Homo sapiens: one gene and its partners. The protein of the gene in region 2 purifies or fractionates together with the protein of the main gene of each other region. This does not show direct contact. Each region holds a gene or a part of one and is shown on either strand. Other genes may lie near its edges. The genes, in order: ZC3HC1, BPIFB1, CRHBP and OGFOD3.

What was found.
Region 1: the proteins of BPIFB1 (region 2) and ZC3HC1 purify together in Homo sapiens (co-immunoprecipitation; one large-scale study listed by IntAct). This does not show direct contact.
Region 3: the proteins of BPIFB1 (region 2) and CRHBP purify together in Homo sapiens (co-immunoprecipitation; one large-scale study listed by IntAct). This does not show direct contact.
Region 4: the proteins of BPIFB1 (region 2) and OGFOD3 purify together in Homo sapiens (co-immunoprecipitation; one large-scale study listed by IntAct). This does not show direct contact.

What each region holds. Positions count from the first base shown.
Region 1 is NC_000007.14:130,022,138-130,030,091, forward strand, and holds part of ZC3HC1 (zinc finger C3HC-type protein 1), read right to left. Parts: intron 6,993-7,954; exon of another isoform or gene 6,974-6,992; intron 6,893-6,973; coding exon 6,765-6,892; intron 4,176-6,764; coding exon 4,021-4,175; intron 2,370-4,020; coding exon 2,126-2,369; intron 1,587-2,125; coding exon 1,374-1,586; intron 389-1,373; coding exon 182-388; intron 1-181. UniProt on the Homo sapiens protein: Required for proper positioning of a substantial amount of TPR at the nuclear basket (NB) through interaction with TPR.
Region 2 is NC_000020.11:33,301,782-33,309,735, reverse strand, and holds part of BPIFB1 (BPI fold-containing family B member 1 precursor), read right to left. Parts: intron 7,378-7,954; coding exon 7,324-7,377; intron 6,821-7,323; coding exon 6,662-6,820; intron 5,779-6,661; coding exon 5,711-5,778; intron 4,891-5,710; coding exon 4,845-4,890; intron 3,735-4,844; coding exon 3,671-3,734; intron 2,826-3,670; coding exon 2,749-2,825; intron 29-2,748; coding exon 1-28. UniProt on the Homo sapiens protein: May play a role in innate immunity in mouth, nose and lungs. Binds bacterial lipopolysaccharide (LPS) and modulates the cellular responses to LPS.
Region 3 is NC_000005.10:76,960,823-76,968,739, reverse strand, and holds part of CRHBP (corticotropin-releasing factor-binding protein), read right to left. Parts: intron 5,398-7,917; coding exon 5,280-5,397; intron 13-5,279; coding exon 1-12. UniProt on the Homo sapiens protein: Binds CRF and inactivates it. May prevent inappropriate pituitary-adrenal stimulation in pregnancy.
Region 4 is NC_000017.11:82,392,209-82,400,162, forward strand, and holds part of OGFOD3 (2-oxoglutarate and iron-dependent oxygenase domain-containing protein 3), read right to left. Parts: intron 7,266-7,954; exon of another isoform or gene 6,112-7,265; coding exon 5,988-6,111; exon of another isoform or gene 5,380-5,987; intron 5,082-5,379; exon of another isoform or gene 4,673-5,081; intron 2,336-4,672; coding exon of another isoform or gene 2,163-2,335; exon of another isoform or gene 2,123-2,162; intron 327-2,122; coding exon 190-326; 3' UTR 1-189.

The DNA of each region.
Region 1 (7,954 bases), on a different chromosome or scaffold from region 2:
TCCAGCCTAGGCAACAAGAACGAGACTCCATCTCAAAAAACAAACAAACAAACAAAAAAACCCAAATAACTTGACGTATGAAAGCTGAAGGCAGGCGGGGTGCTAATTATAGGCCCAGCCTCTGCTCCACCTCCCATAAACAGCAAGTGCTGCCCACACACAAGGCAGTGGCGTATCTCACCATGGAGTCCGTTTCAGCTGGCTGGCTAGACTGTTTGTGCGCCAAGAGGATGGTCAGCACTGCTTTCCAGCCTGGCTCTGCTGGGGCGCTGGCATCTGGTTCAGTTCCACCATTCTCCCTGCTTTCTTTGCCAAGTGTGATATTCACCCAAGGGCACCAGTCTCTATGCTGAGAGGTGGGATCAAAGAAGCTTCGGGAAGATGTGTCCTGAGGAAGGAGAAAAAGAAATAGCATTCATAGGTAGATGCTATGTAAGTTCAGGGAGGCACTGCTGTTAGTTATCAAGTCCAGAATCTCACAACTACCCATACTTCGAGTGTTTATGCTCTCCTTCAAACTTTGCCTACACATTTTCCTCTCATTTTCTTTATTTTTTCACTCCTTTTGTGTTAAACAAACTATACCTTATCACAAGGGATAAGGGATACCCAACCCCCAGGCCATGGATGGGTACCAGGTCGCACAGTAGGAGGTGAACAGCAGGCGGGCAAGCAAAGCTTCATCTGAATTTACAGCTGCTCCCCATTGTTTGCATTACCACCTGAGCTCTGCCTCCTGTCAGATCAGCAGTGGCATTAGATTCTTATAGGAGCAGGAACCCTACTGTGAACTGCACATGAGAGGGATCTAGACTTCGGGCTCCTTATGAGAGTCTGACACCTCATGATCTGTCACTGTTTCCCGTCACCCCCAGATGAGATCATCTAGTTGCAGGAAAACAAGCTGCAGGTTCCCACTGACTCTATATTATGGTGAGTTGTACAATTATTTCATTATATATTACAATATAATAATAATAGAAATAAAGTACACAATACATGTAATGTGCTCGTATCATCCCGAAACCATCCTCCCAACCGTGGTCCGTGGAAAAATGGTCTTCCATGAAAACGGTCCCTGGTGCCAAAAAGGTTGGGGACCGCTGCCAGATCAGGTTTGTCCCTGTATCACACCGTTGTTCCATTTGCCTGAAATATCTATTATTTCTCCAGAATCCACTCCAAAGGAACAAAAAGGAGCAAAAAACATGACTGACATTTTTTCCCTTTGGTCATCCAACTTTAAATTTATTCACATGGTCTACTTTTTGCATTGGACCACGGAAGGGCTCCTGCCTGCTTCTCCATGCTGCCTAGGGAGGGCCCAATATGCTGTTTATGCTCAGCCACTGCTACATGCGAGGTGGACTCACCGAACTGCTGGAGGAGCAGAGGCGAGCTCGCTTGGCTTTCCGCAGAGGGCTAGATGGTACCTCCAGGCCAGGGGTGTCTCCTGTTCCCATGCTTCGGGTCACTGGGCGAGTTCTGGTGGTGGGGCTAGCAGCCTCTGGCTCAGGACGGTCAACAGGACTGGAAGAGTCCCAGCTCCGAGTTCGAGAGACAATGGGACCAGGGCTCTTTTCAGCCTGAAGGAAAGGGGAGATAATGGAAGTACACGAATGATATTAATGATTATGGTCAGAAATACTTCTTTCTTTAATCTTTTTTCTTTTTTTTTTTGAGACAGAGTCTCGCTTTGTTGCCAAGGCTGGAGAGCAGTGAGGCGATCTTGGCTCATGGCAACCTCTGCCTCCCGAGTTCAAGTGATTCTCCTGCTTCAGCCTCCCAAGTAGCTGGGATTACAGGTGCCTGCCACCACACCTGGCTAATTTTTGCATTTTTGGTAGAGACGGGGTTTCACCATGTTGGCCAGGCTGGTCTCAAACTCCTAACCTCAAGTGATCTGCCTGCCTCAGTCTCCCAAAGTGCTGGGATCATAGGCGTGAGCCACCGGGTCTGGCTGAATTTAGCTTCCCCATTAGTGAACAGAAACACTATGTGGTATCGTAACCAATGTAGTGGGAAGAGAAGCCTATCCACCTAAATTAATTTCCAACTTTCTACCAACAACACTTTTGCCAAGAATGTTGTTTAAAATTCCACCCCAAATAAGCTAAGTGAATACCTGCTCTGAGCCTGGGGAGAAAGTGGCATCCTGGCTCCGGGTCATCATCCTCCGAGGAGATTCAGGCACCAGAGGTAAGCGCTCTGGTCGCCCCTCAAGGCCTGGGATTGGGGAGCTGGTCAGGCCAAAGGATGCATCCAGGTCAGTCATGGACGATTCAATCTGCTGGAAGCCCCAGAGCCCCACCTTCCTCATACATTGCGAACATGTTATCAGGGAGAGCTGCATGGATTCCAAAGAGGAACTAGATAGGAATGAAAAAGAGAGTTTTCTCAAAGTGTAACATTTCCAAATGACTAAGTGCAATGTCTTGTGAGTATGCCTTATCTCATCCAATTTCTGGAACAGTCACCATGTCCTATCAGAGCCTCTGTGCTCCAGTCTCAGGACCCAGCTTCATACTTCATCATCTCTCACATATTTCCCATAGAAAGACCTCGGGTTCTTAGTGTGCTCTCTATGGTAAGACTGTTTTGCAGGCATGTTTTAAAAGTTTCTCGGCCGGGTGCAGTGGCTCATGCCTGTAATCCCAGCACTTTGGGAGGCCAAGGTGGGTGGATCACCTGAGGTCAGGAGTTCGAGACCAGCCTGACCAACAACAACAACAACACAAAAAGTTTCTCCTGTCCCTCTTTTTTTTTTTTTTTTTTTTTTTTTTTTGAGTCAGAGTTTTGCTCTTGTTGCCCGGGCTGGAGTGCAATGGTGCGATCTCAGCTCACTGCAACCTCCGCCTCCCAGGTTCAAGTGATTCCCCTGCCTCAGCCTCCTGAGTAGCTGGGATTACAGGCACCCGCCACCATGCCCGGCTAATTTTTGTACTTTTGGTAGAGATGGGGTTTCACCATGTTGGCCAGGCTGGTCTCGAATTCCTGACCTCAGGTGATCCACCCGCCTTGGCCTCCCAAAGTGCTGGGATTAAATAAGTGTGAGCCACCGTACCCACCCTCTCTTGTCCCTCTTAAAGTCTTTTCCCTTTAAACAAAAAACATTCCTTAATCTACCAAAGAGAGCATATTTAAAATACATCAAGATTTATTTACTGTCAGAACCAATCTTGATGTATTTTAAATATGCTCTCTTTGGTAGATTAAGGATAGTGGGAGTCTATGCCAAATTGAGCAGCTGGAATGGAAATAGCAACATGGGGGCCTAGAAGACTCCAGCTGGTGTTTCCTATGGTAGTTTTTATCAATTAAGCGGATTTTTCTTCCTTTCTAAAAATAGAAAAGAACTTCCTTTCTATTTTTCCTTCTTAAAAATAGAAAAGAGCTTATTTTCTTTCCATTTTTAGAAAGGAGGTTCACTGTTTATAGAACACAAATTCAGCCTGGTGTGGTGGCTCACGCCTGTAATCCCAGCACTTTGGGAGGCCGAGGCAGGCAGAACACGAGGTCAGGAGATCAAGACCATCCTGACTAACACGGTGAAACCCCGTCTCTACCAAAAATACAAAAAATTAGCTGGGCGTGTGGCAGGCACCTATAGTCCCAGCTACTCGGGAGGCTGAGACAGGAGAATGGCGTGAACCCGGGAGGCGGAGCTTGCAGTGAGCTGAGATCGCGCACGCCACTACCCTCCAGCCTGGGCAACAGAATGAGACTCCGTCTCAAAAAAAAAAAAAAAAAAAAAAAAGAGAACACAAATTCCCAGTTAAGAAGCAACAGTACAAGAAACAAAGTTCAGTTGTGAACACCAAGAATTCCTGAATTCCAATTCTGGTTTTGTTACTAATTCTTATTATCCATTCTCCTCGCACCATCCCCCACCCAGTTTTTCTTTGTCTCTTTTTCTCACGGGAAACACCATGTGATTTCTAAATACGATTAGTGACTGATATATATGGGTGTAATGCTGTTGTCATGGTTCATGTCTCCAGGCAAAATCTGCTGACTCACCTACACGCCCAGCCACACACAGAGAGAATACAGGCAGTGACGTGGACTTGGATGTCTGAGCCTAATTTGATTGTAGTTTTTCTCTCATCAGTTCGGTGATCAAGTTCATCTTCAAGCAAGTGTAGGAGAAGACTGATCTTGTCTTCTGTCAAGCACTACAAGGGAGCCAAGTAAAAAACTTCGTTTCAACCACCATAAAAAGAAAAATTACACATTATAACATACCTAGATGGTACAAGCCGAAAATCAGGAAGGAAATTACAAACATGAAGATACTTCTCTTCACAGAGAACAAAATACTTCCAGGGACAGGGCTATAGTATCACACAGAAGCTTTCTGAATTGCCCTGAATCTGCTGACTGAGAAAGATGGAGTCTCCCTGGAACTGCCAAAACTCTTGTTAGTACTAAATTGTTCAATTTACCAGCTGCAGATTTTCCCTGAAACCTGCAAACTTCAAACCCAAATAGTGAAGACAAATTACTGCTTATGTCTTAGCCTGACACTAAATTTACTTAAACATTAAAGAGGCCAGGCGTGGTGGCTCACGCCTGTAATCCCAGCACTTTGGGAGGCCGAGGCAGGTGGATCACAAGGTCAGGAGATCGAGACCATCCTGGCTAACATGGTGAAACCCCGTCTCTACTAAAAATACAAAAAAATTGGCCGGGCGTGGTGGCGGGCACCTGTAGTCCCAGCTACCCTGGAGGCTGAGGCAGGAGAATAGCGTGAACCTGGGAGGCGGAGCTTGCAGTGAGCTGAGATTGCACCACTGCACTCCAGCCTGGGCGAATGAGCAAGACTCCGTATCAAAAAAAAAAAAAAAAAAAAATTAAAGAAAAAAAAATTTTAGAGATGGGGTCTCACTATGTTGGCCATGCTGGTCTTGAACTCCTGAGCTCAAGCAATCCTCCCACCTCAGCCTCCTGAGTAGCTGGGACTACAGGCATACATCACTGTGCCCCAGGCTCTAAATTTACTTTTTGACAGAACAACAAAGCTCGTTAGACTTTATTTTTGTTCTAAGAAAAATAAGGAACTATGACCAGGTGGAAAAAAAAAATTGCCTTGGCTAGGGACAGGGTTATATTCATAAGCATCAGAGGTTAATAGTTTCAGTCTATGGCCATACCACCCTGAACGCGTCCAGTCTCATCTCATCTCGGAAGCTAAGCAGGGTCAGGCCTGGTTAGTACTTGGAGGGGACTTTGGGAGGTTAACAGTTTGATGCTAAAACCCATACCACTCTCTTAATTTGAAGAGGCTACTATTTCCTACAGTAAAGCTTGTCTTCATGGAGTACCCATAGGGTGATTAAATGGAACAGTAAATATTCAGTTTCAAAGTACAGATTGACTAGAGCATTTATTTTATTTTTGAGATGGAGTTTCGCTCTTGTTGCCCAGGCTGGAGTGCAATGGTGCGATCTCGGCTCACTGCAACCTGTCTCCCAGGTTCAAGCAATTCTCCTGCCTCAGCCTCCCAGGTAGCTGGGACTACAGGCATAAACTACCATGTCCGGCTAATTTTTTGTATTTTTAATAGAGACGGGGTTTCACCATGTTGGCCAGGCTGGTCTCGAACTCCTGACCTCAGGTGATCTACCCACCTCAGCCTCCCAAAGTGCCGGGATTACAGGCATGAGCCACTGTGCCCGGGCTGACTACAGCATTTAAACATTTCTACTCACAAGGAGAAAGGAGTTTGTTACTTTCTTTGAAAAATGATGGCCGGGTGTGGTGGCTCACATCTGTAATCCCAGCACTTTGGGAGGCCGAGGTGGGCGGATCACGAGGTCAGGAGATCTAGAACATCCTGCCCAACACAGTGAAACCCTGTCTCTACTAAAATTACAAAAATTAGCTAGGCGTGGTCGCACGTGCCTGTAATCCCAGCTACTTGGGAGGCTGAGACAGAAGAATCGCTTGAACCCAGGAGGCGGAGGTTGCAGTGAGCCAAGATCACCACTGTACTACAGCCTGGCGACAGAACAAGACTCTGTCTCAAAAAAAAAAAAAAAAAAAAAAAAAAAAAAAAAAAAAGATATGCAATAAACCATATGCAGTCACATTTCAGTATTTTCTGTTAAATAGTTTAAGTAGGCTGGGTGTGCCGGCTCATGCCTGTAATCCCAGCACTTTGGGAGGCCGAGGCAGGTGGATCACCTGAGGTCAGGAGTTTGAGAACGGCCTGACCAATATGGTGAAACCCCGTCTCTACTAAAAATACAAAAATTAGCCAGGTGTGGTGGCAGACGCCTGTAATCCTAGCTACTCAGGAGGCTGAGGCAGGAGAATTGCGTGGACCTGGGAGGTGGAGGTTGCAGTGAGCCGAGATTACACTATTGCACTCCAGCCTGGGTGACAGAAAGAGACTCGGTCTCAAAATAATAATAATAATAATTTAAGTAATAAATCAAGATAAAACTGAATTTATGGGAAGCATATATTCAGGGCAAACTTGAATCTATGCTTCCAGGTTACAGCCCTAAAACTTGGCCCAAATAAACTGCTTATATACATATATGTTAAATTGAATCTATGCCATTTAAAAAAACATACCTAAACATTCAAATGGAACTCTCAACTGTCACCTTCCTGGTGGAGACTGAAAAGGTCAGATGAGAGACAGACAAGCAGTTCTCTTCACAGCAATTGCATCTTCTTGTCATTAAAAGAAATGCTTCAGGTATAAATGCTGGCAACAACTGGAGGCCATTGCAGCCTAGTCAGGAAAAACTCACCATAGTTTTCAAGTCCTCCGGCCTTAGGGAAGGAAGCTGGAGGTCCAAGTGACAAAGGCTTTGAAAACGATCTAGGAATTCACTAACAAGAATAGCAGGCTCATCCAGGGGCAACATCCCAAATCGGTCTGTGGAAAAAGTAAATTGGAAGATTATATTGGTGTAAACTGTAAAAAATAAAAAACACGGCTGGGCATGGTGGCTCATACCTGTAATCCCAGCACTTTGGAAGGCCGAGGCGGGCGGATCACCTGAGGTCAGGAGTTCAAGACCAACCTAGCCAACCTAGAAACCCCTGTCTCAGCCTCCTTTAATACAAAAAATTAGCCAGGCATGGTGGCGCGTGCCTGTAATCCCAGCTACTCGGGAGGCTAAGACAGGAGAATCACTTGAACCCAGGAGGCAGAGGTTGCAATGAGGCTGAGATCGTGCCACTGTGCTCCAGCCTGGGCAACAGAGAGAGACTCTGTCTCAAAAAATAATAATAAAATAAAATAAATAAAAAACACATATTGAATGATTGAGGAAATATAGTAAAATTGATGAGCTATTTGATGGTGTCAGGAAATTATTGTTTTTCATTTTGATGGGGCTGTAATGATACTACTGAGACCATGTTTAAAAAGTAGAATCCATATTTTTTATATTTTGAAATATTTAGATAAAATGGCATATGTGGGACTGAACTTCAAAACAATGCAGAGGGGCAGGGTGTTAGGTGTTAGGAATATAGAAGAAACAAGATCGGCCATGAGTTGATCATTGTTGAAGTTGAGTGATGGGGTTTCATTATTTATACTATTCCGTGTACTTCTATATATGTGTGAAATTGTTACCTTAAGAAAGAGAAAACAGAACAGAGTTAGTGGAGATGGATGCTTAAATAGGTGAAAAGTCTTAAAGAACCATCATTTTATAACTACCAAGTTATAACTTACTGTGAGCTAAGAATGAAAAAAATGGCATGTTCCTAAAGTCTACACAAGAGATACAAAAAGGCTTGCATTGTAAGGTGAAGCTTAACTGGGTACCAGAGTAAATAAAGTATACAATTAGGAATTCTACTGGTAATACCTAAGTTGGAAAAGAAGGAATCTGCCTGAAATCTAAGCAGTGTGGAAACTGATTATATACTATAGTATAATTATCTCTGGCATTACCCAATTCATCTACTGCATACTTGGTACACT
Region 2 (7,954 bases):
AGGAGGCTGGAGTAAGCACAAGGGCATCCTGGAATTGGAGGGGAAAAGTCAGAAAACAGGTTTCTTTAACCTTTTGCCTTGTGGTTTATGCTGGTTTTGTCCTCCATAAGGTGACTGCTGGCACCGGGGGACCATGACCCTGAACCCACAAATACAGAATTCTTAGAAGGGTCGGGGTGGAGGGTCTGTGTGTGAACATTAATGCCACACCAGGTCCTGATGTCATCTCCATTTTGCAGATGGGGACACTGAGACTTGAAGATGGCAAAAGCCCCTTTCCAAAGTCACGCACTCAGTAGGTGGCAGAAGTGGGATTTGCACTTAGCACCCGCCTTGATCACCCCCTGCTTTGGGCCCCTCCTCTGCATGAGCTAATGACAGTAAGGTGTCCATCTCAGTTAGCAGGCATTTACTAAACACCTACTGTGTGCAGCCACTGATCACAACAGAGAACAAAGCAGACAGAAACCCCTGCCTTCTTGAAGTTTTGGCTCCACTCTAGAGGGGGAGAGATGCCCCAGAGCCTGGCACACAGTGACTGTGAGCTGTTCTTCTTAAGGGTAGTATTTGGGAGCGAGGGTGACACTGCCATAGATCCTCTCCCCAGCAGATGCCACGGAGAGTCATTTGCTCACCAAGCATTTATTGAACACCTACTGTGTGCCAGGCCATGCTGAGCACCGGGGACAGAGGCATGGACAAGATGGACATGATCCTGGCCTTGAGCTGAGACCATCTGGCCACATGGTGTGTGTGTGTGTGTGTATGTGTATGTGCATGTGTAGTGTGTGTATGTGTGTATATGTGTATGTGTGCGTCTCTGTGTATGTGTGTGTATGTATGTGTGTATGTGTGTGGTGTGTGTGTAGTGTGTATGTGTGTGGTGTGTGTATTATGTGTGTGTGTATGTGTGTGTGTAGTGTGTATGTGTGTGGTGTGTGTATTATGTGTGTGTGTGTAGTGTGTATGTGTGTGGTGTGTATGTGTGCAATATGTATGTGTGTGTGTATGTATATGTATAGGTGTATAAAGGTGTGTGTGTGTATGTATGTGTATAAAGGTGTATGTGTTTGTATGTGCGTGTGTATGTATGTGTATAGGTGTATAAAGGTGTGTGTGTGTATGTATGTGTATAAAGGTGTATGTGTTTGTATGTGCGTGTGTATGTATGTGTATAGGTGTATAAAGGTGTGTGTGTGTATGTATGTGTATAAAGGTGTATGTGTTTGTATGTGCGTGTGTATGTATGTGTATAGGTGTATAAAGGTGTGCGTGTGTGTGTGTATATGTGTGTGTGCATGCATGCATCTCAGGCCTATGAGGTTACCTGCCTTGGATGTTGCCTCAGATCCTGGGCCTCCTTCCTCATCTTTCCTGGAACACCAACAATCCCTGCCTCAGGGCCTTTGCACTTGACATCTGATATGGTTTAGATCTGTGTCCCCGCCCAAATCTCATGTAGAACCCAATGTTGGAGGTGGGGTCTAAGCTGATTGGATCATGGGGCTGGTTTCTTGTGAATGGTTTAGCGCCATCCTCTTGGTGCTGTTCTCGTGATGGTGAGTGTGCTCTTGTGAGATCTGGTTGTTTAAAAGTGTGTAGCACCTCCCACCCCTTGCTCCTGCTTGGGCCATGTGATGTGCAGTCTTCCCCTTTGCCTTCCGCTATGATTGGAAGTTTCCTGAAGCCTCCCCAGAAGCTGAGCAGATGCCAGCATCGTGTTTCCTGTACAGCCTGCAGAACCACAAGCCAATTAAACCTCTTTTCTTCATGAATTACCCAGTCTCAGGTATTTATTTTCTTTCCTTTTTTTTTTGGGGGGGGGATGGATTTCACTCTTGTTGCCCAGGCTGGAGTGCAATGGCGTGATCTCAGGTCACTGCAACCTCCGCCTCCTGGGTTCAAGCAATTCTTCTGCCTCAGCCTTCCGAGTAGCTGGGATTACAGGTACCCGCCATCACGCCCAGCTAATTTTTGTATTTTTAGTAGAGACTGGGTTTTGCCATGTCGGCCAGGCTGGTCTCGAACTCTTGACCTCAGGTGATCTGCCCACCTTGGCCTCCCAAAGTGCTGGGATTATAGGCACAAGCCACTGAGCCCAGCCTCAGGTATTTCTTTATAGCAGTGTGAGAACGGCCTAATACGCTGTCCCTCTGACGGGACACTTCTCCCAGCTACCCACAGGGCTCACCCCTCACCTCCTCAGGCATTGGCTCAAATGTTACCTCCTCAGAGAGGCCCTCCCTGGCCACCCCATCTGAAACAGCACCCCCTTCCCTGACATCACTCTCTCCTCCTGAGCCTGCTTTATTTTTCTTCTCAGCCTTCCTCCACTCAGCCTGATGTTACATCTTTAGGGCTTGTGTATCTGCCTCTTCTGCTAAAAGGTAGGCTTGAAAAAGATGGGAGTGTTTTCCATTTGTTCATTTCGGTGGCCTCAAGCACTCAGAAGCATGGCTTGCCTATAGAAGACCCTCGAAAAATATTTAGTGAATTACTGAATGAATGAATGAATGAATGAATGACAAGGGGGTGGAAAAAGTGTACTGACCCCAGGCTAGGAGGGTTCCATCCTCAGCACAGCCAACCTTCTCACTTGCAGATGAGGAGGTGAGGCCCTGAGAGGGGAAGGGACTTGCCCAGGGTCACCTGTAGGCTGGGGTTGGAGTGCAGGCCCCACCTCCCAGCCAGGGCTCTCAGTGGCTGTGCCCTCCCTGGGGCAGGATGTTTAGGGCCACACCCACTCACCTTGGTCAGTGAGGACTCAGCTGCCTCGAATCCCAAGGCCTTCACCAATGACACTGGGACCCCAGATCTTAATTTGCCTGAAATAACAAATGTGGTCAGAAACTGATGGGCCTGGGGTGAGACTGGGCAGCCAGGGGCAGGCTCAGGGTTCCTGAAGGGGAGCCCCGGCCTGGCAGGCCTGATCAGACAGCCCCCTCTGCCTCTGCTCGCCTGTTCTCTGGCCCCAGCATTGACCCAGCCTCGTCTACCCTCCCTTTGCCTCTGGCACTGGCTTCTGGCCCCTCACAAAATGCAGTCCTCACATTCTCTTACGCTCTTGCTCAAGAACCATCAGGGGCTCCCATTATCCCCAGCAGAGGTTTCTATACTTTGAGATTTTTCCAGTCTAATAAAATAAAGAAATTAAAAAGGTGGAACTGTATAGGTTACAAACCCTTCCCACCCCTCATTCAACCTGGGGCTGAATTAGAGTGTTGGGCACTGACTGTGCCAGGCACCTCCTGATTTGTGCCTCTGAAGAAGGTACTTCTACGTCCCCATTTTACAGATGGAGAAACTGAGGCTCAGAAGGATTGTGCAGCTTGACCAAGGCCAGGCACTAGCAAGAGGGGGAACAGGGTCTGCTGAGGCGCCTCCAGTTGTCTCTTACACCTCTGTCATTGCTCTCATTGTCTGCTTATGCCTCTGTCTCCTTCCAGCCCTGCAAGTCTGGCCCACTGCTTGGTTCATCTTTACGAGCCCAGCCTCTGGCACTAGCAAAGGAATTGGGCTGAGAAGGTTCTTGGGAGGAGGCAGATTTTGAAGTAGGCTCTGAGGGATGGCTGGGAGATGAATGAAAGGGGCCCCATTCATGGAGATGAGGGCAGGGGAAGTAAAGCCAAGCCCTGGGGAGAGAGGGGGCACAGATGGCAGAGGTATGCACCATTCTGGTTCGGCAGCAGGATGGAGTGGATGATCTCAGTGATGATGTTTTTCAGAACATCAGGCTGTGAGAGAGAGAAGGGGCACTGTCACCCTGGTTGAGCATCTGAAGTTCCCCCCCATCATTCTTCGTGGGTGTGGCTCCTCCCCATGGGTGAGGTGGCTGGTGGAGATGTAGGAATTCCAGGTCCCCTGCTGATCAGAGCTGTGGGGGCTCCCAGGGACCAGATGGGCTGGGTTGGGGCATGAACTCAGCCGCCCCTGGGGCCTGGTAGATGGGGGGATTGGGGTGCATTGGAGGATGCCCCATCCTCAGGGGCCCCACCACTCTGTTGCAGCTGAATTTGCCCTGAGGGAATTTTGCCCTGCATTGCCTGAACTTCTGACTTCTGGAGGGAAGCCAGAAGTCCTGATTTGCATGTGGAACTCTCCGTGTTTTAAAATATTAGTCACCGGGCATGGTGGCTCATGCCTGTAATCCCAGCACTTTGGGAGGCCAAGGCGGGCAGATCATGAGGTCAGGAGATCGAGACCATCTTGGCTAACATGGTGAAACCCTGTCTCTACTAAAAGTACAAAAAATTAGCCGGGCGTGGTGGTGGGCGCCTGTAGTCCCAGCTACTCAGGAGGCTGAGGCAGGAGAATTGCTTGAACCCGGGAGATGGAGGTTGCAGTGAGCCAAGATCACACCACTGCTCTCCAGCCTGGGCGACAGAGCGAGACTCCATCTCAAAAAAAAAAAAAAAAAAAGTCAAAAATAGTGAAAAACAAATCATAAAAACCAGAGAAAACACGCCAGACTGAGGTATTGGGGTTCGGTCTGAATCCCAGCAGGAAAGGGCTGTCTAGGGGCACTGAGGCGCGTCTACGTGTGCAGAATGAGATTGTGAGTCAAGGGCACTTGTGTTCTAATTCAGGATCAAAACTTCACTGAAAGAAAGTGTGTATCTGTGAGTGTATTTGTGTGTGCGTGTGTGTGTTCTCAGCTGTGTCTGACACGTGGTGGCTTCTCTGTAAACACTCGAGGGAAGTTGGACTTTGGTGGAGACCGGCCAGCCCCCCATGGTGCTTCTGTGGGGACCTTGTTTGAAGCAAATCCTGGGCAATATCTGTTTTGAGAGTGGACCATTCCAGGCCACCCCCTGTGCCCTCAGGCACCACCTGTTAACACTTACTTGGAACCAGCCAATCCCAGAGTTCATCAGCTGGATCCGATCAGAGCTGCAATGGAAGATGCCTGTGAGAGCGGCCCCTGAAGTCCCACTCATTCACCATCCACTCATTCAACAGCGATTTATTGAGCACCTATTATGTGCCAGGCACAGTGCGGGCTCCAGTGAACCACATGAAGCCCTTGCGTCGTGGAGCTTGCATTCTAATGGCAGGGGTGGGGTGGGGGGCATAGAGGGGGCACAGAAAACAAATAGCAGTCCAGTGAGCAGAAAAATCAACCTCAGGAGTCAGGGCTGTGGTGGACAAGGAGGCCCAAGCTCCTTCAAAGGGCGCCCCAATTCCTGGCTCGACAGTTTGTTGCTATGTAGGATTGTGGGCACAGGGCAGCCAGATAGTCTGATTTGATATGTGCACAACTCATTTATATTAAACAGCCCAGCCCTATGTGGGCTGATCAAAAGAGCCCTGGGCCTGACTTGTCCCCAGAGGCTCCAGCTGGCAGCCCCTGCACTCACTCTGGGGCCACAGGAAAGTGGCGGGGAGGGAGAACAGGCAGGGTGCAGGAGGCAGCTGGAGCCCTGCACTTCTGTGCCGGGTGACTGTCACTGCCACGGCCTGGGAGGTGTCCAGAGTGGGCTGGCCGCGGCTAGGGTTTGCCTGTGCCGTGGCTGCTGCAAGGCCTACTTCATTTTCCTCCCCATTCCCTCACATGCAGTCCTTGTCAGCAGGAGCATCCGGAAGGACCTCCCTGCCTACCCTGGAGCCGCCTTCACCTGACAGCCACAAAGTCGGTGTTTAAAGAAACCCATGGTTACCAGGCGGGACTCATTTCCATCAGCAGAATCTTCATGATGATTTGTGTGTTTACCTGATGTTATTCAAGTTGAGTATAAGTTGGTCACCTTTGGTGTAAAACTGAGCTTCCGAGCTGGCTTCCTGCAACAAGAGAAGCCCAGGCCCCATTGTTCTCAAGAGGATCCGAGTGTGGAATTAGGGGTTATGCAGGGAGGCTCTGGGGTCTGAATCTCAGTTCCTGGCTCTGGGACCTTGGCAAAGGGTTTGACCTCTCTGGGCCTCACCTGCCTCATCTGTTAAATGAGATAGTACTTGCCTCCACTCCCCATTTAACAGATGACAGTCTAGGCTTGCTGTGGGGAATGATAATGATGACGATGACGACGACGAAAGCAGCCACTATTCATAGAGCCCTCACTCCCTTACCCTAGTGTGTAGGTGGCCCAGCTCAGGAAGTTTTCATATTCCATTTTTCTGGACACACTGATTGGCTCAAGAATGGGCAACTGACTCAGGCTCATTCAGTGAGAGTCAGCCCTGAGATGTTTGCTGGAACTATTGGAAAGATAGGTTCTTCCTGCGGTGATTGCCAAGCTGATAGGATATGAGCCTAATGCAGCCTGGGGCACTACCATGAGGGAATAGCTTGCCTGAGGATGAAGGCAGCACAGAGGAAAACAAGGCTGCTAGGTGGGAGAGAGGAGAATGAAGAGGATATTGTTTGAGCACCTGGGTCCAGCTATTCCCGAAGTCAATAGCATCTAGACTTTTTAGTTATAGGAGCTAATACAATTCCTTTTGTGCATATGAGTTGAGTTTCTGTCCAGAGATTCCTGACTAAGAAAGTCACAGGGTTAGAATTGGACCCACAAAGCTCCTGGCTCTTGGTTCAGAGCTCCCTGTCCCCTGTCCCTGCTAAGTGATGAGAGTGGTGGAAATGTTTAACAAAGCAAGAGGGCGAACAGGAAAAGTAGACAGAAGGGTCCCCCTGGTTGCTGCCAATATCGCAGACAACTGAACTCACGATGCCCAGGGTGAACAAAGGGCGGAGGGCTTCACTGGAGGGAAACACTTCCAGCACGATCAGTTGGGCCACCTTGGCATGGCCTTGGTCTATAAAAAACTCGGGAGTGTCCTGAGTTAGGATCTTCACGATCTGGGTAGATCCCAGCTTATCTGCAGCCTGGAAGGAGATCAGACCCACATGTGGCCTCCCAAGTGCCCACCATGGCCCACAGGCTCTGTGTGTGGCCTGGCCCCTGCCTGCCTTCCTGGGCTCCCTGCTCCCTCACGTGTTCCAGCCACCCTGTCCTTCTTGCAGATCCTTGAATGTTGTGTTGTTCTCCCTACCTGGCAGCCTTTGGTCTCCTGTTCCCTCTGTCTGGAATGCCCTTCCCTTCAGGGAGGCCTCCCTGACGTCCCAGACTGTATCAGGGGCCCAGAGTGTTCTCATGGCCCCTAGAACCTGTCCTGTGTTACTGCAGCTGTAATGGAAATACTATCCATGTGATGATTTGCTTCAGGTCAAACTGGCCTGCTAGACTGAAATCTCTGTGCGGACAGGGATGCGGTTTGAGTGTCCCAGTGCTGGAATGAAACACTAGTCCCACTAGATTCTCCTCCCCAGAGGCCTGTGTCCAGACCACAGCAAACACCCCTCAAGCTGCAGATGGCAAACAGACCAACCTTTTCATTGATCAGCCCGATGCTTGACTTCAGCCGATGGGCACTCTCAGGAAGCTGAGGGTGAGAGGAGCCAGAGAAGGTCAGTTGGAGGGCACAGGGAGGCACATCTCCTGCACCCCACTGCTGGGAGGAAGGTTTCCCAGGACCCCAGAAAAGCTGGGTGGGCCCAGTGACCCAAGCCATGTGTCTGTCATTGGTGGAAAAACAGCCCCTAGGTCAGCTTCTATGGGGCATGGGGTCCTGCTGGCCTGGACTTTTACTGTGGGCTGGTGATGGTTGTGGGTCTGGGGGCAGCTTCCTGATCTCAGAGGACATAGAGAGGTGATTTCATTTTTACTGCAATCATGAATGGGCTAGTTGGTGACCACTCCCTATTTTCTCGCCATCCCAGTCCCCTGAGAGCTTGGTTATTGGTTGTCTGTCAGCTGCCCTGAAGTTCTGCCATCCTCCCATAACGTTGGACCAACCCTTTCCCCCTCTGGACCTCAATTTCCCCGTCAGTCACCCGGGAGGAGGTGGCACAACATAGTTGACTGGTGGTGGTTATCGGCTGTGCCCTGTTAATAAGGATTCCAAGGTTGTGTCAGCATCCAGACTCAGTAGAAAGGAGAGCCTTGATCGATTAGTGATG
Region 3 (7,917 bases), on a different chromosome or scaffold from region 2:
CTTTCATCTGGGCTATAATGGATGGAAAAGATAAAAGTTTCCCAGCAGGTTAGAAACCACACAGTCATCATTTAAATGACGGGATCACTTAAACATAATGAAAGCAAGGAGACCTATCTTCCTCTCATGTACCCAAACCATGCATCTACTATCAGTTGAAATGTTTTTGTTTCATTTTTATTATAACTTATAATTAGTTATAGAATAGTGCAATTGAATTCAGTCTTTCTCCTCATGTGCAAGAACACTATTAAAAAATAAAACTAGCTGGAAAGAGGCAAGAAGATGTCTCCTCGGCCTTTTTTGCCTGCAAAGCCTAAGTAGTAAAGGCAGGCAAAGGCAATCAGTCTGGAGTGTGCACAGTTGCTCGGGTTCAGGGATTGCAGTGGAAACAGTACGGCCCTCTAAGGACAGGTCGGAAATTTGCAGTGGCAGTTTTTGGTTGTCACCGATCTAGGGTTGCAAGGGGCATTTAGTGGGGGCTAGAGGATGGAATGTACTGCGGGACATTTATGTAGACCAAAAAAAAAAAAAACAAAAAAAAACACCTGTTTATCATTTTCTGAATTTATACAAAAACTGTTTTATACATAAACAAAAAGATCATTTGCATCGTATAGACATACACTGAACATACTAGTTTTTGTTTTATTATCCACTTACAACTTTTCTCTGATTTTTTCTGTACTATTTATATGAAATGGCTTCTGATATCCTTGCTTCTCTTAAATCCAATCTTATTCAGCTGGGCACGGTGGCTCATGCCTGTAATCCCAGCACTTTGGGAGGCCGACGTGGGTGGATCACGAGGTCAGGAGTTTGAGACCAGCCTGGCCAACATAGTGAAACCCCGTCTCTACTAAAAATACAAAAATTAGCCAGGCATGGTGGTGCGCACCTGTAGTCCCAGCTACTCGGGAGGCTGAGGCAGAAGAATTGCTTGAACCTGGGAGGCAGTGGTTGTGGTGGGTCGAGATCACACCACTGCACCCCAGCCTGGGCAACAAAGTGAGACTCCATCTCAAAAAAAAAAAAAATCCAATCTTATTCATTATTTATATAAGATCTGACAACTTTTATATCTCCTCTGTATGGGTTATATATTGAAACTCATATTACTTTTATTAAGAATTACTTTCCTTTTATTTATTCTATTTGTTTATCCAAGCTGATTCCTGAGGCAAGATTTATCTGCTCTACAATAATCATTTCTGCTGTTTTAGTTTTCTCAATCTTTCTTTTCCTCACTTTGTCTCTATAAGGTGTTTTTAAATTTTAAGAAATGCTATCATTGTCCTCGTGTAATGGGTACCACTCAAACACATACCTGGGTTTAAATGAAGTAAACAGTTCAATAGAGTTATTGAGATAAAAGTCAAATGGATGACATAATAAATAAAAGCCCTATAATTATTTTAATATAAGTACCAGGTAGTCTAGTTAAGCTTCTACCAGGAGGTCCAAATTTCTTTTTCTTTTCCTTTCCTTTCTTTTTTTTGTGGCAGGATCTTGCTCTGTCATCCAGGCTGGAGTGCAGTGGTGCCATCTTGGCTCGCTGCAACCTCTGCCTCCCAGGTTCAAGTAATTCTCCTAACTCAGCCTCTCCAGTAGCTGGGATTACAGTTGTGTGCCACCACACCTGGCTAATTTTTGAATTTGAATAGAGATGGGGTTTCACCATGTTAGCCAGGCTCGTCTCAAACTCCTGACCTCAAGTGATGTGCCCGCTTCAGACTCCCAAAGTGTTGGGATTACAGGCATGAACCACCACACCCAGCCAAATTTATTTTTCATTAAACAGTTTGGAGGTCATTCTTTTTCTGATCTTACTCTGGACTTTAATCTTTATAACATGTCCTATTTTCTTTACTTATTATTTATTTATTATTTTGAACTAATTCCTAACAAAATCCAATGTAAAGGGCAGGGTCCTTAATAGTTCAACACTGAACAACTCAGGAGGGGCTCATGGAAATATGATAAAGAAAGAAAAGAATTAAGGCAGGAGAATAGGGTCTGGAGGCAGGGAACTTAAGGTCAATTCATGCTGAATCAAGGAAAAACACCAAGGCCTGGTGGCAGGGAAACTGAGGCCAATTTGTGCTGACTTCCCAAAGCTGGATCAAAAGGAAAACACCTGGGTCTGGGGGCAGGGAACCTAAGCCCAATTAATGCAAACTTCCTAAAGCTGAACCAAAAGGAAAAACCGCATCTCCCCCAAGCCCAAGTAGCGACGGATCAAAGGCTAGTCTCCCTACAACCCTCCCCTTCCACCACATCTCACAAGGAAAGGGAGAGTGCCTTGTACTGGCCGTGGAACAAGCATGGGCTATCTCTTCATCTGCATAGGGTGCCAATTCACCTCAGCCTTTACCCACAAACCAAATCCTTCATCCAGATAAAGGGTAATTGATAGGAACCTCAAAAGGAGCAGTGGCTCACACCTGTAATCCCAGCACTTTGGGAGGCCGAGGTGGGCAGATCACCTGAGGTCAGGAGTTCGAGACCAGCCTGACCAACATGGAGAAACCCCATCTCTACTAAAAATACAAAATTAGCCAGGCGTGGTGGCACATGCCTGTAATCCCAGCTACTCGGGAGGCAGAGGCAGGAGAATCACTTGAACCCAATAGGTGGAGGTTGCGGTGAGCCGAGATCGCACCATTGCACTCCAGCCTGGGCAACAAGAGTGAAACTCCATCTCAAAACAAAAGAAAGGAGTACTTGAAACCCAGAAAACTTTTGTAACCGGGCCCTTGAGCCGCTCGCTAGGGTCCACTCCCACCCTGCGGAGTGCTTTCTCCCTTTAATACATCCCTGCTTCGGCTACTTTGTTCCTGTGTTTCATTCCTTTGTTACTTTGTGCGTTTTGTCCAATTCTTTGTTCAAAACGCCAAGAACCTGGACAACTTACACTCAAGGCCCTCCTTCCAGTAACGGAATAAAGTCTAAAATGAACCAAAGAGTGATATAATTCAAGCCTTAAAATTGTCTTAAAAGTGGTTTCAGTTACCTAGGTAATGTAGGCAAAAGTGGTTTTCTGGCTTTAGAATCACCTTTTTTTCTAATTCAAGTTATATCACTCAAGCGGAAAAATGACTTTGGCTTCAATTATCTAAATTGTAAGGCCTGATTGTTCTTTAATCCTTGTCTTACTTTTTAACCCAGCTGAGGTATATCTCCTCAAAGGTGCTCTCCAATCATGAGCATGGAAGTACTTTAGTGCCTCAGATCATGCACCCAAAAGGCTAAAGAAGCCGCATGCACTGACAGTTTAAACCATGGCTCAAGTGTCAATTAGCATTAGAGAATCCTCTAGTTTTCCGCAAAGTGGGATTTTGGAAATCTTTTGCCTTTACCTTGATTAGAAAGCTTGCTTTGAGCCCACTCCTACCTTAAATCTCATCTGAAACTTTTAGAATATAGGTGTATCTGGGGGAGGGTGGAGTGCATATCAGGCTTTAGTGCTGACTTTTGTATAATTCATCCTTTGGTATCCTCAGGAGATTGGTTCCAAGATGCTCCCCATCCCACGGATACCAAAATCCACAGATGTTCAAGTCCCTTATGTAAATGGCTACCTTTTACCTTTACCTATTTCCATGTAAACTACACACATCCTCCCATATACTTTAAATCATCTGTAGATTACCTATAGTACCTAATACAATGTAAAAGCTATGTAAATAGTTGTTATACTGTATTTTTTTGTGTGTTTTTTTTTTACCTGATTCTTTTCTTTTTTTTTATTTTATGGGGTGTGGTCTTGCCATGTTGCCCAGGCTGGTCTCAAACTGCTGGGCTCAAGCGATCCTCCTGCGTCAGCCTCCCAAAGTTCAGGAATTACACTGAATATATATATATTTTTTGAGACAGAATCTCACTCTGTCTAGTCTCGCTCTGTCATCCAGGCTGGAGTGCAGTGGCACAATCTCAGCTCACTGTAACCACCACTGCCCGGGTTCAAGCAATTCTCCTGCTTCAGCCTCCTAAGTACCTGGGACTACAGGTGTGCACCACGATGCCTGGCTAATTTTTTTATATTTTTAGTAGAGACGGGGGTTTCACCATATTGGCCACGCTGGTCTCGAACTCCTGACCTCAGTAATCTGCCCGCTTCGGCCTCCCAAAGTGCTGTGATTACAGGCGTGAGACACCGCGCCTAGCCTACGCTGAATATTTTCTATTACAATTGGTTGAATCTGTGTATGGGGAACCCACAGTTAAGAAGGGCTGACTGTATGTTAATTCTATTTTGGAGATGTTTTGTCCATCATCAACTCAGAGTCAGAAAATACTGGTGGTCTGGCCTGGTTTTAATTATTACAGGTAACAGCTGATCAAGAGGACTGTCTGCTTTGCAGCTTCATTGCCTAGCTGGTTAATGATCTGCAGTGACAGGAGAGGAAGGAGGCTACAGTAAGAATTAACTGAGATTAGAGACTGCTGTTCTTCTTCTGTTTTGTCTCGTTAATGTTAATCTAGGACTCCTGTGTCTGAAGTAAAGCTATGGGAGTGACCTTTACAGGAATGTTTTATGACTCCTCTCCCCCACCTCCCCGAGACTTCATTGAGTTATCTGGTCATGAGGTCATGAAGTCCCATCCATCCTCACCTGACATGAGCATAAAAAAGTGAAAATACTCACTTGTCTCTGACATAGATCTGGTTCTATTTGGCATATGCTGTGCCAAATAAACCAGTCTTCTATTACTGGTGACCGCTTTTAGATTTCAGAATTTACCTCTGTGTTACACTGGCCTTTGAGAGGCTAGTTTAGCCATAAGAAGTTATAGACTTAGCAGTTCTAAGAATTTCTAATAAAGCTTATCACTTTGTTGTTTATTTACTATGAGTAACACACACACATACATACACATACATAAAAAACAGTTATTTCATTATTATCCTATTACTAATTGATGATACATCTACTATTTGAACCATAAGTGTTTCAGTTAGTAAACTCTTTAGTCTCTAGAAAATGAAAGCAGAGACCCCCAAGAAAATGGAAAGAATGCAGATTTTAAAAGCTTTGTCTTTTTCATAGTTTTACTTAAGGCCAACCTTTATTGCTTCAAAGGTTTCTCTCCCAGTGTCGGATATTTTGGTAAAGATACTGATGTTATATATAGCCTCAAATCCTCATACTGGCTCAGTGTGAAAAATTGAAGGCTTTTTTGGCGAAACTCACCTTCCAATGTAGAAAATATTAGGGGAGTGCTTATTTTTTTTTAATCTTGATAGGCACATACATAACAATCAAAGAAATACCTCACCCGGGCCATGAAAGGGGTAGCAGAGATCAGCTAAAGGCGTCATCTTGGAAGGGTCCAATCCAGTTCCTCCCAGCAGCTCCACAAAGTCTCCTATTCCCTCGCAACCTGCTGAGGATTTCTAAGGGAATAAAGCAGCAGAGAAAGACACATTTAAACCAATTACAGAAGTCAAACCATTTGACCAACAGCGGGTCCATGAATTCACTCAATCAGCCCTCAACATCCTGGCAATACCATTTAATTTAACATCTGGGACTCTGGAAATTAAAAGACATTTAAAAGAGAAAAAATCATAAAAATTGCTTTTCTAAATCAGTTGAGTAATCATTTTTTTTAGAAATGTGTGTACATGTTTTTTTCATTTTTTTTAAGCTCAAGGACTGGAATGATAAAATGGAAATCTGTAAACTCCATATAAGATGTGTGGAAATTCAACCAAAAAATGCTTTACTTTTCAAATCATTTGGACATACATACTGAATCACTCCAATTTCTTAATGCATGCAGTCACAGCTAAGCGAAGTCAAATACCTACATTTTATAAATAGGGCTTTCACATCCGTTTTTCCTTCACCTCATCTCTTTTCTTCTTCTTTGTAAAGGAAATTTGTGTGCTATTGGAACACCTCATTTCTAACAATAAGAATTTTGATTAATTATGAGTATGTTAAAGAAATAATAAAACCCTGATTTGGGGCCCAAGTTAGCTACAGTTACCATGATCTTTCTCCTTTCAACTAAAACAAATTTATTTCAAGCTACTCAAAAGAATTCATTCTAAAGCTTTGTGTGGTCCACCATGATCACCTTTTCCTGCTTCCCCCTTTTTTTTTTTTTTCAATTTTGTAGAGATGGGTCCTTGATATGTTGCCCAGGCCGGTCTTGAACTCCTAACCTCAAGGGATCCTCCTGCCTCGGACTCCCAAAATGCTGGGATTACAGGTGTGAGCCACCTCACCCAGCCTTTTCATTTTTTCCACACTGTCTTGTCCATAGCAATCCCCGTGCCTCACTTTCCAACACAAACAAAGCAACCACTCTTAGTCCCAAAAGTACTCTGAGCCCCCATCTCCCCAGGGCAGTCTCACAAGTATGCCACCTGTGCAGCCACAAAAAGCCAGTGCCTAGAAGGGCTCTATGCTTGGTTTAATGTTCTGCTGCATTTTCATAAAATTGTAATAAGGGCTCCCACATTTTCATTTGTACTGGTCCCCACAATTTTGCCTGTGATCCTCTTTTTCATTGAAGTGTGCTCATTAAGAGATCTAGTAGAATGTGACAAGGTGCTCAGTACTTCACTAGATAGACCTTAACACATAGGAACCAAAATCTAAAATAGAGAACTTAATACACACACACACCCACACACACACATAAGCACACACATTCAGGCATTTAGAAGGGCACTGACCAGCATGGTGGCTCACGCCTGTAATTCCAGCACTTTGGGAGGCCAAGGCAGGTGGATCATTTGAGGTCAGGAGTTCGAGACCAGCCTGGCCAACACGGTGAAACCCCGTCTCCACTAAAAATACAAAAATTAGCCAAGCGCGGTGGCACACACCTGTAGTCCCAGCTACTCGGGAAGCTGAGGTGGGAGAATCACTTGAACCTGGGAGGCAGAGGTTGCAGTGAGCCAAGATCACGTCACTGCACTCCAGCCTGGGCGACAGAGTGAGACTCTGTCTCCGAAAAAACAAAACAAAACAAAACAAACAAAAAAACACAGAAGAGCATTGGAATACAACTGGAACTAAACAGCAAATTGGAAAATAACATAATGGCAACTGCTTCACTAATGAGCAGGGGCAGGTGGGGATACATATTTTTAAAGGGCCTACCTACTATGTACTGGGTTTGATGCTTAGAGGCTTTATACATAATTGCATCAAATGATGAAAGAGGTTTAATTAGCCCCACTGTATACAGGGCTTCATGTTCTTGTATTGAGAGTGGAATAAGCAATTTAGCAGTAAAGGAAAAAAACTTTAATTGCCTTTCCCTTGAGTAGAGGATGTCCAGGAGGAACATCTCTTACAACTAAATTTTCCACTTAGTTTTATAGGTTCCAAAATTCAGCAGGTGCTGTTGCAGGCAAAAAGGCAGACTCAGGAGAGAGAAGTAGGAAATAAAGAAGCTAGGAAGAAATAGAAACTAAAGTGAGGGGAACAAAACAAAGAAACAAGAAAGTTAAGTGCACTTATTCCTTGCTGTTCAATGATTTTTCTCCCTTCTTTGCAAACCTCTCAGCTTTTCTTACAATGGCAGAAACTGAGTTATGCAGGGACCTCTCAAGTTCAGTTTCTCAACAGGGATTCCCTAAATTTCTTTGTTCAGGTTCTAAGCCACTACTATCTTTTGCCTAGCCCACAATAATGTACCAAAAAAGTACTTGGCCAGGAGCAGTGGCTCATGTTTGTAATCCCAGCACTTTGGGAGGCCGAGGCGGGCAGATCACAAGGTCAGGAGTTTGAGACCAGCCTGGCCAATATGGTGAAACCCTGTCTCTACTAAAAATACAAAAAAAAATTAGCCAGGTGTGGTGGCTCATGCTTGTAATCCCAGCTACTCAGGAGACTGAGGCAGGAGAATTGCTTGAACCTCGGAGGCAGAGGTTGCAGTGAGCCGAGACTGCATG
Region 4 (7,954 bases), on a different chromosome or scaffold from region 2:
CTGGAGAAGTGAAAAGCTGGTTCCCTTCATTTACTCACAGATGAAAAGATTAACACGTCAGCAAATCAAAATCAGAGAATTCCTAAGGCACTCTGTGCAACAGGAGCGGGTGGACGTGGGGGTGGGTGCACGACTGGCGCGGCTGCCTCCACACGGGCCCTCCTGAAGTTACCTTGGCCCGGCTGCTGGCTACGGGAACGCTGGGTCCTCGATGCCATGGTCGGGGTTGCAGCTGAAGGCGATGGTGATGGCGTAACGGGTGCCCCAGTGGACCTTCTCCACGCGGTGTAGGTTCTCGGACCCCGAGGTGAAGAAGGAGACGCGACCTGGGAGAGGAGAAGAGAGAGAGGTGGCCATAGAGCCACACCCACGGCCACAGCCTTCAGAGGGTCTGCGGTCACCTGAAAGAGCAACTATAACCAATCAACACAACCAACCAGGCAGGCTGGAGAAATTGCCCCTCTGGGAACTGCTTCTGCAGGAAGGAGGAGCTGGAGAAACAAACGCAGCAATGCTCAGGGGCCCTGTGGCGGAGGAGGGGCCCCCCGGGGCCAGCAGGGACTCTGTGGTGGGCAGGACAGAGGAAGATGCTGCAGATGAGGCCACCACTGGCTCCAGACACCCCAGGTCATCTGATCTCCCGAGCTCCGGGCATTTGATCTCCTCAGCTCTCATGGGCCTTCCAGATCTGACACTTTAGGATCTTATTTCTAATCACAGGTTGAGAACAAAAACCAAGCCCTGGGGGTGTTCTAACAAAGAATCAGGAAAGACAAGATAAAACATCCAACTCGCAAACACCTCTCTGTCTCCCTTCAAGGGGTGATAGAGATGACGTCTGAACAGGCAGCTTCCACGGCAGTAACCAGGGCCCGGGGCCTGAGAGGTCCTGGAGGCAGGGGCCTATCTCAAGAGACGCCAGTTCATTTGTCTTCACATTGAAGTGGCGCTGCCTACCCCACCGTAGAGTCCTGTGGTAAAGCGTTCACCGCTGGACACAGCCATCGACCGTCACCAAGTGGGAAGCAAGGGGCGTTGAGACTCAGAGGACACCGGGCTCCCCCACGTGGCTCCTGACGTCCTGTGACAATTTCATTCCCCTTCAAAGGTTACCACTGGAAATGCAATTCCTTCCTTTCACATTTGCAAACTTCACTCGATCTTTGAAAGGGGAGAGAAGTCCATCCCGGGTGTGCAGGGCATTCTAGCTTCAAGAGGGAGTCAGTTGCACTGTGCCTGGAAATAGTGGAGCAAAAGAAATCACGTGGATGCAATGGTCACCTCTTAATGGAGGCCGGGAAGCGCCCTGGGATGCAGGCAAGGCAGCCGATCTTTCCCGGACCGTGTGGGCCACCTCCAGATATGCAGGACACGTCCTTTTCCAGGTCGGCTGGAGTCAGGGCACCTTCTAACCTTACACTTTTAAAGGACACATTGTCCTTGGTTTCTTCCAGCTTCAATCGAGGCTGAGACATCGGCACAAGCAGGAGGGCCCAGCGGCTCGCGCCATTTGGGACCTCAGTCGCCCATGCTCGTCCACACTCTCTGCTCTCTACTGCTGGCAGACGTGGTTCTCAGGAGGCTGCCAGCATTCAGTAAAAGGAGGGTCTCCTCTGGCCCTCTGGTGTTTCTGCACATCTTGCAAACAGAGGCACCAAAGGACAGGGGGAAGGATGGAGGACAGCTGAGCCTCGTGAGCTGTGGGAGGCAGGAAACCACCCACCATCCACACTACTGAAGGCTCAGACGGAGATGAGATCAATACGGGGCCAGAAAAGGACTTTTTTTTTTTTTTTTTTTTTAGACAGTCTCGCTCTGTTGCCCAGGCTGGACTGCAGCGGCATGATCTTGGCTCACTGCAAGCTCTGCCTCCTGGGTTCACGCCGTTCTCCTGCCTCAGCCTCCCTAGTAGCTGGGACTACAGGCGCCCGCCACCACGCCCAGCTAATTTTTTTGTACTTTTAGTAGAGATGTAGTTTCACCGTGTTAGCCAGGATGGTCTCGATCTCCTGACCTCATGACCCGCCCGTCTTGGCCTCCCAAAGTGCTGGGATTACAGGCGTGAGCCACCACGCCCGGCCTAAGATGCACTTTCTTTAGTAAATGACTATTAGATTATCACCTGCTTCCTTAAAGCAGGACTCAGCACGGCAACCAAGGAATCAACAATAAGCAATGCTCTCAGCTTCCAGAATCGCATGTGTCTCTCCCCTCTCGGGCGGGTGGTGAGTCCCCGGAGGACACCTGACTCCAGCCTTCGCACCAGCAGCTTCACTGGCTCTCGGTCCATTAACTTCTTGGAACCCACAAGACATCATCCGGAAACAAAAACATCCTGGGGACACAGGACAGGGATTGTGTGGTAAAGGGTTGACTCCAGGGGCCTGGGCGGTGCACACCCTACACCCTCCAGAGAGAGGCCTGGCCTTTGCCCCGGCTCCCAGGGGGGACCTCTGAGCCCTCAGAACATCCTGCCTGATAGGAGAACCTCTGTTTACCAGGGACCTAGGGCCACACCAGATGGTCCACACTGACAGTGTCACTTATGGTGGGACGTGGGCCACAGAGCAGCAGCTCAGCATCCAGAGGGGCTGGGGACAGAGGCCAGCCGTGCCTGCACCACCAGCCCCCCAGTAAAAACCCTGGACACCAAGGCTCGGCCGAGCATCCCTGGTCAGTGACACCCCCGAATATCATCACACATCACTGCTGGAGAACTAAGAGCTGTTGACCCAACTCCGGGAGAAGACAGTGGGAAGCTCACACCTGGTCACTCCTCAACCTGCCCCACGGCCTCTCCCCTTGCTGGATTGTTTTTTGTTTTTGTTTTTGTTTAGACAGGGTTTGGTTCTGTTTCTCAGGCTGGAATGCAGTATGCAATGGTAGGATCTTGGCTCACTGCAACCTCCTCCTCCCAGGCTCAAGCAATCCTCCCATCTCAGCCTCCTGAGTAGCTGGGACTATAGGTGCACGCCACCACACCCGGCTGCTTTTTGTATTTTTTGTAGAGACGGGGTTTTGCCATTTTGGCCAGGCTGGTCTTGAACTCCCGAGCTCAAACGATCTGCCTGCCTCGGCCTTGCAAGTGCTGGGATTACAGGTGTGAGCCGCCCCACCTGGCCCCCTTGGTGGATTTTAATCCATTTCTTTTCACTGTAATAAACTACAGCCAAGGGTATAATGGCTTTGCTGAGTTCTGTGAGTCCCAACAGTGAGTCACTGGACCTAAAGGTGGTCTTGGGAACCCCCGAACACAGGACTCTGCCTTCCTCGATAAAGTTGCCCTACAAAGAAAACTAGCATTTGCCACTCATGGTAAGAACTGCGACACGGCCGGGCGTGGTGGCTCACGCCTGTCATCCCAGCACTTTGGGAGGCCGAGGCGGGTGGATCACGAGGTCAGGAGATTGAGACCATTCTGGCTAACACGGTGAAACCCCGTCTCTACTAAAAATACAAACAATTAGCCGGGCGTGGTGGTAGGCACCTGTAGTCCCAGCTACTCGGGAGGCTGAGGCAGGAGAATGGCGTGAATCCGGGAGGCGGAGCTTGCAGTGAGCCGAGATCGCACCACTGCACTCCAGCCTGGGCGACAGAGCGAGACTCCGTCTCAAAAGAAAAAAAAAAGTCTCCAAATCACAGGTAAACACATAGATACACACAATTAGACAGATGTACAACATCAAATCACAGGTAAACACATAGATACAATTAGATGTATGACATCAATCACGTAAACACACAGATACACACAATTAGACAGATGTATGACATCAAATCACAGGTAAACACATAGATACACACAATTAGATGTATGACATCAAATCACAGGTAAACACATAGATAACACACAGATGTACAACATCACAGGTAAACACAGATACACACAATTAGATGTATGACATCAAATCACAGGGAAACACATAGATACAATTAGACAGATGTACGACATCAAATCGCAGGTAAACACATAGATACACACAATTAGACAGATGTACGACATCAAATCGCAGGTAAACACATAGATACACACAATTAGACAGATGTATGACATCAAATCGCAGGTAAACACATAGATACACACAATTAGACAGATGTACGACATCAAATCACAGGTAAACACATAGATACACACAATTAGATGTACGACATCAAATCACAGGTAAACACACAGATACACACAATCAGACAGATGTACGACATCAAATCACAGGGAAACACACAGATACACACAATTAGATGTATGACATCAAATCACAGGTAAACACATAGATACAATTAGACATGTATGACATCAAATCACAGGTAAACACATAGATACAATTAGACAGACACATGCAGGAGACAGGTTGTTTTAATTATCTGAAAGAAGATCGTAATACAAAATGTTTGACTCAAGTATTTATCATGCTTAAAATGACTAAGATCAAAATATGCTAAAAAGTTGTGTAATTTCGAGTCCCAGGAGGCTTCAGCTGCTTGACTTCTCAAGAAAACGCCTGTCTTGTGCTCTGTGAGTTTTTCATTTTCCCACAAAACTGCTGTGACTGGGACTTCTGGGGTGAGGGCAGACAGGCTGGGCTCCTGCTTGCAGAGGCTGGACGTCCAAACCCTTCCCCTAATGCAGAGATGACTCAGAACAACTGACATGAAGGCAGAGTGAGGCCAGGACACAGTCAGGCCAAACGCCCCCAATCCACGCCAGGGGAGACTGTGCCCAGGGCTGCGGCACACACGGCCTGAAGCCGGCTGCAGGGAGTGGGCTTGGCCAGCCGCTGGCTACAGCGGGAACTGTCCAGCCTGTGGCCAGGGAGCAGCTGAGGGAGGCAGGATGGCAGGAAGTGGCCGGGCAGCTCAGGCCACCTGCCACAGGTGGTCGTGGAAAGAGAGTCCCTCAAACTGAGCTTGCAAACTGAAGTCGTAAACTAACCTGAGAAAGGCAAGTACAAATAACAGGAATCTCAAAATAAACAAGCTGGAGATCTTAAAAGAGATGAAAGAAGTCCTGACTGTCACACAGTCCCTGGTCTGACTGAGCGGCCAGGCAGGAGGAACACCCGTGCTGAGAGGCCACCCCACAGGTGAGGGCAGTGCCCTGGGGACGGGTGAGGCAGCAGGGGGTGAGGGCAGTGTCCTGGGGACGGGTAAGGTAGTGGGGGGTGAGGGCAGTGCCCTGGGGACGGGTGAGGCAGCGGGGGGGGGGGGGTGAGGGCAGTGCCCTGGGGATGGGTGAGGCAGTGGGGGGTGGATGGTGCTGGCACAGTCCACAGGGCTCCCAAGCCTATGCGAGTTTCGGCTGCATCTGGGGTCAGGGCCGTGGGCTCCACCTGAGGAGGCCCCTAACAGGGGTTCCCCACTCCCCACACCCTCCCACCCCAGGATCTGGGCTTGTGTTACCCACAAGTTCAAGGAGCAGAGGATGACTGTCCGCTCGGCAAATGCTCACTGGCACTGCTGTGTCTGCAGCAGGCTGGGCATGGCTGGGGCTCTGGGACTCTGGGACTGCAAGGTCCAGTGTGATGGGTTCTGAAGCCGGCACCGCAGAGCCACCCGGTGAGGTTCCAGCCACCAGCGAGGAGGGCACTAGGTCACCGACACTGGGCTGGGGCCTCGTCTAATCTTAGGTTGCGAGTCTCTTTGAGAAGGGTACAGAGGTGAACGCACTCCAGAGGGGAGGGAGGGAGACCCTGACCGCCAAGGTGACACACACCAGGGAGGGAAATGGATGGTGCCTGTCAAGGTGACACACACCAGGGCGTGGAGGGGGGCTCTGCCGCTGACTGACGGTGACCTCAGACATGTGGCCCCGTAGACACCAGCCTCCTGGGTGTTGGGACTGGCGCTAGACCTGGGAATCACTCAGCACCGGCCCGGCACACAGCAGATGCTCCGTGAACTCAGCCTCGCTCCCAGGGACACGCCCCCCACACCCACCGTGCTTGCCTGAGCCAGGAGCCCCACGCCCAGGCCCCGCCCGCGCCTCCTACCAGCTCTCGGCTCCACCGTCTTGTTGGCACCCTCCTCCATGAACATGAACCGCCCTCCGCCGAAGTCCTCCAGGTAGTTGGAGAGGTACAGCAGCGAGGTGTAGTCGAAGGAGCCGTAGGTCACCTGAGGGCAGAGCCGGGAGGAGGGGGCAGAATGGGCTCTCAGCATGCGACCAGGGCAGGTGCTGCTTCTCTCTCTTATTTTTTGTTTATTTATTTTTTGAGACAGAGTCTTGCTCCATCACCCAGGCTGGAGTGCAGTGATGCGATCTCGGCTCACTGCAATCTCCGCCTCCCAGGTTCAAGCAATTCTCCTGCCTCAGCCTCCCGAGTAGCTGGGGCTACAGGCACCCACCACCACACCCAGCTAATTTTGTATTTTTAGTAGAGACAGGGTTTCACCTTGTTGGTCAGGTTGGTCTCAAACTCTTGATCTCAGGTGATCCACCCACCTTGGCCTCCCAAAGTGCTGGGATTACGGGCATGAGCCACTGAACCCAGCCTCTTTTTTTTTTTAATAGGGTATCGCTTTTTTTACAGACAGCATCACTCAGGCTGTAGTGCAGTCACAGCACTGTCATTGCTTACCATAACCTTGAACTCCTGGCTTTAAACAATCCTCCTGCCTCAGCATCCCGGGTAGCCAGGACCACAGGCGCACGACACTACAACCAGCTAATTTTTTCTTTTCTATTTTTTTTTTTGTAGAGATGGCATCAGTCCACCCACTTTGGCCTCCCGGGTGCTGGGATTAGAGGCATGAGCCACTGTGCCTGGCTGATTTTTGTATTTTTTGTAGAGGTTGGGGCGGGGTGGTGGGGGCAGGGGGGCGGGTCTCGCTATGATGCCCAGGCTGGTCTCAAACTCCTGGCCCCAAGTGATCCTCCCACCTCAGCCTCCCGGGTGCTGGGATTACGCGCGTGAGTCACCAACATCTGTGCTTCTTATTTTCCAGAAGGTAAATTAACAACATGTGTCGGCCCCATTAATGAGGCCATTTGTTCCTTTGCAACTTTAAAAACCCTCTGCAGAGTCTCCAGCCTCATGCATTGTTGCCCAGGATTTCCTGTAAGCTCAGATGTTGGAGCAGCCGTGTTCCAGCAAAGGCTACGGGCAGCAGGCCAGCCAGCAGGGTGTGCATGCTGGGATGGTCCCCCGGTGCCAGCCTCGCTGCCCACACGTGGGAACCAGAGGCAGCGGTGGACGCGCTTTTCTCCTTTCTTCAGAAGTGGAGCAATCCCAAGCTTTTTAAAACTTGTAATAAAATGCAGAACCTAAGATTTTCCAGCTTAACTGTGTCTTCACTGTTTTTAAGCACAGTTCAGTGATGTTAAGCACATTTCCAATGTTGTGCAGCCACCGCACCGTCCTCTCCAGAACATCTCATCCTCCCAGGCCGAAGCTCCGTCCCCAGGAAGCACTGACTCCCCACGCCCCCCAGTCCTGCCCTCTCCATTCCGCTTTCTGTCTCTGTGAACCTGGCGACTCTAGGGTCCCCACGGACGTGGGATCAGGCAGGATCTGTCCCTCCGTGACTGGCTTACTTCACTCAGGGGTCGCAGCACTCAGCTTCCATTCCAGAACCCAGCTGGGGCCACGCCCTGGGGGTGAAAGGTGCAGCTGCCAGGACACCAGCTGCAAAGGGGAGGGCGCATCTCACCCAGCTCAGCTGTCATAAGCACACCCAGACCAGGGAGGGAAAGAGACACTCTGGGGAGGGAAGGGGGATGGAGCCGCACCAGCGCGGAACTGGACACCCACTGTGCGGGCGCTGAGCTAGGTACATCACACACAACAGAGCCTCGTGTGCAGTGGAGAGAGCCCAGGCTTGAAGGCAGACACCGGGCCCTCCCCCTGGGCAAGGTGGCCTCCTCTGAGTCCTCCTGGGAAGGAGAGCAGGATCACGCTGGGGCCCAGCCCCCAGTCCGACCCGCCAATATCCACCTCACATAATCCGCTGTAAGGAA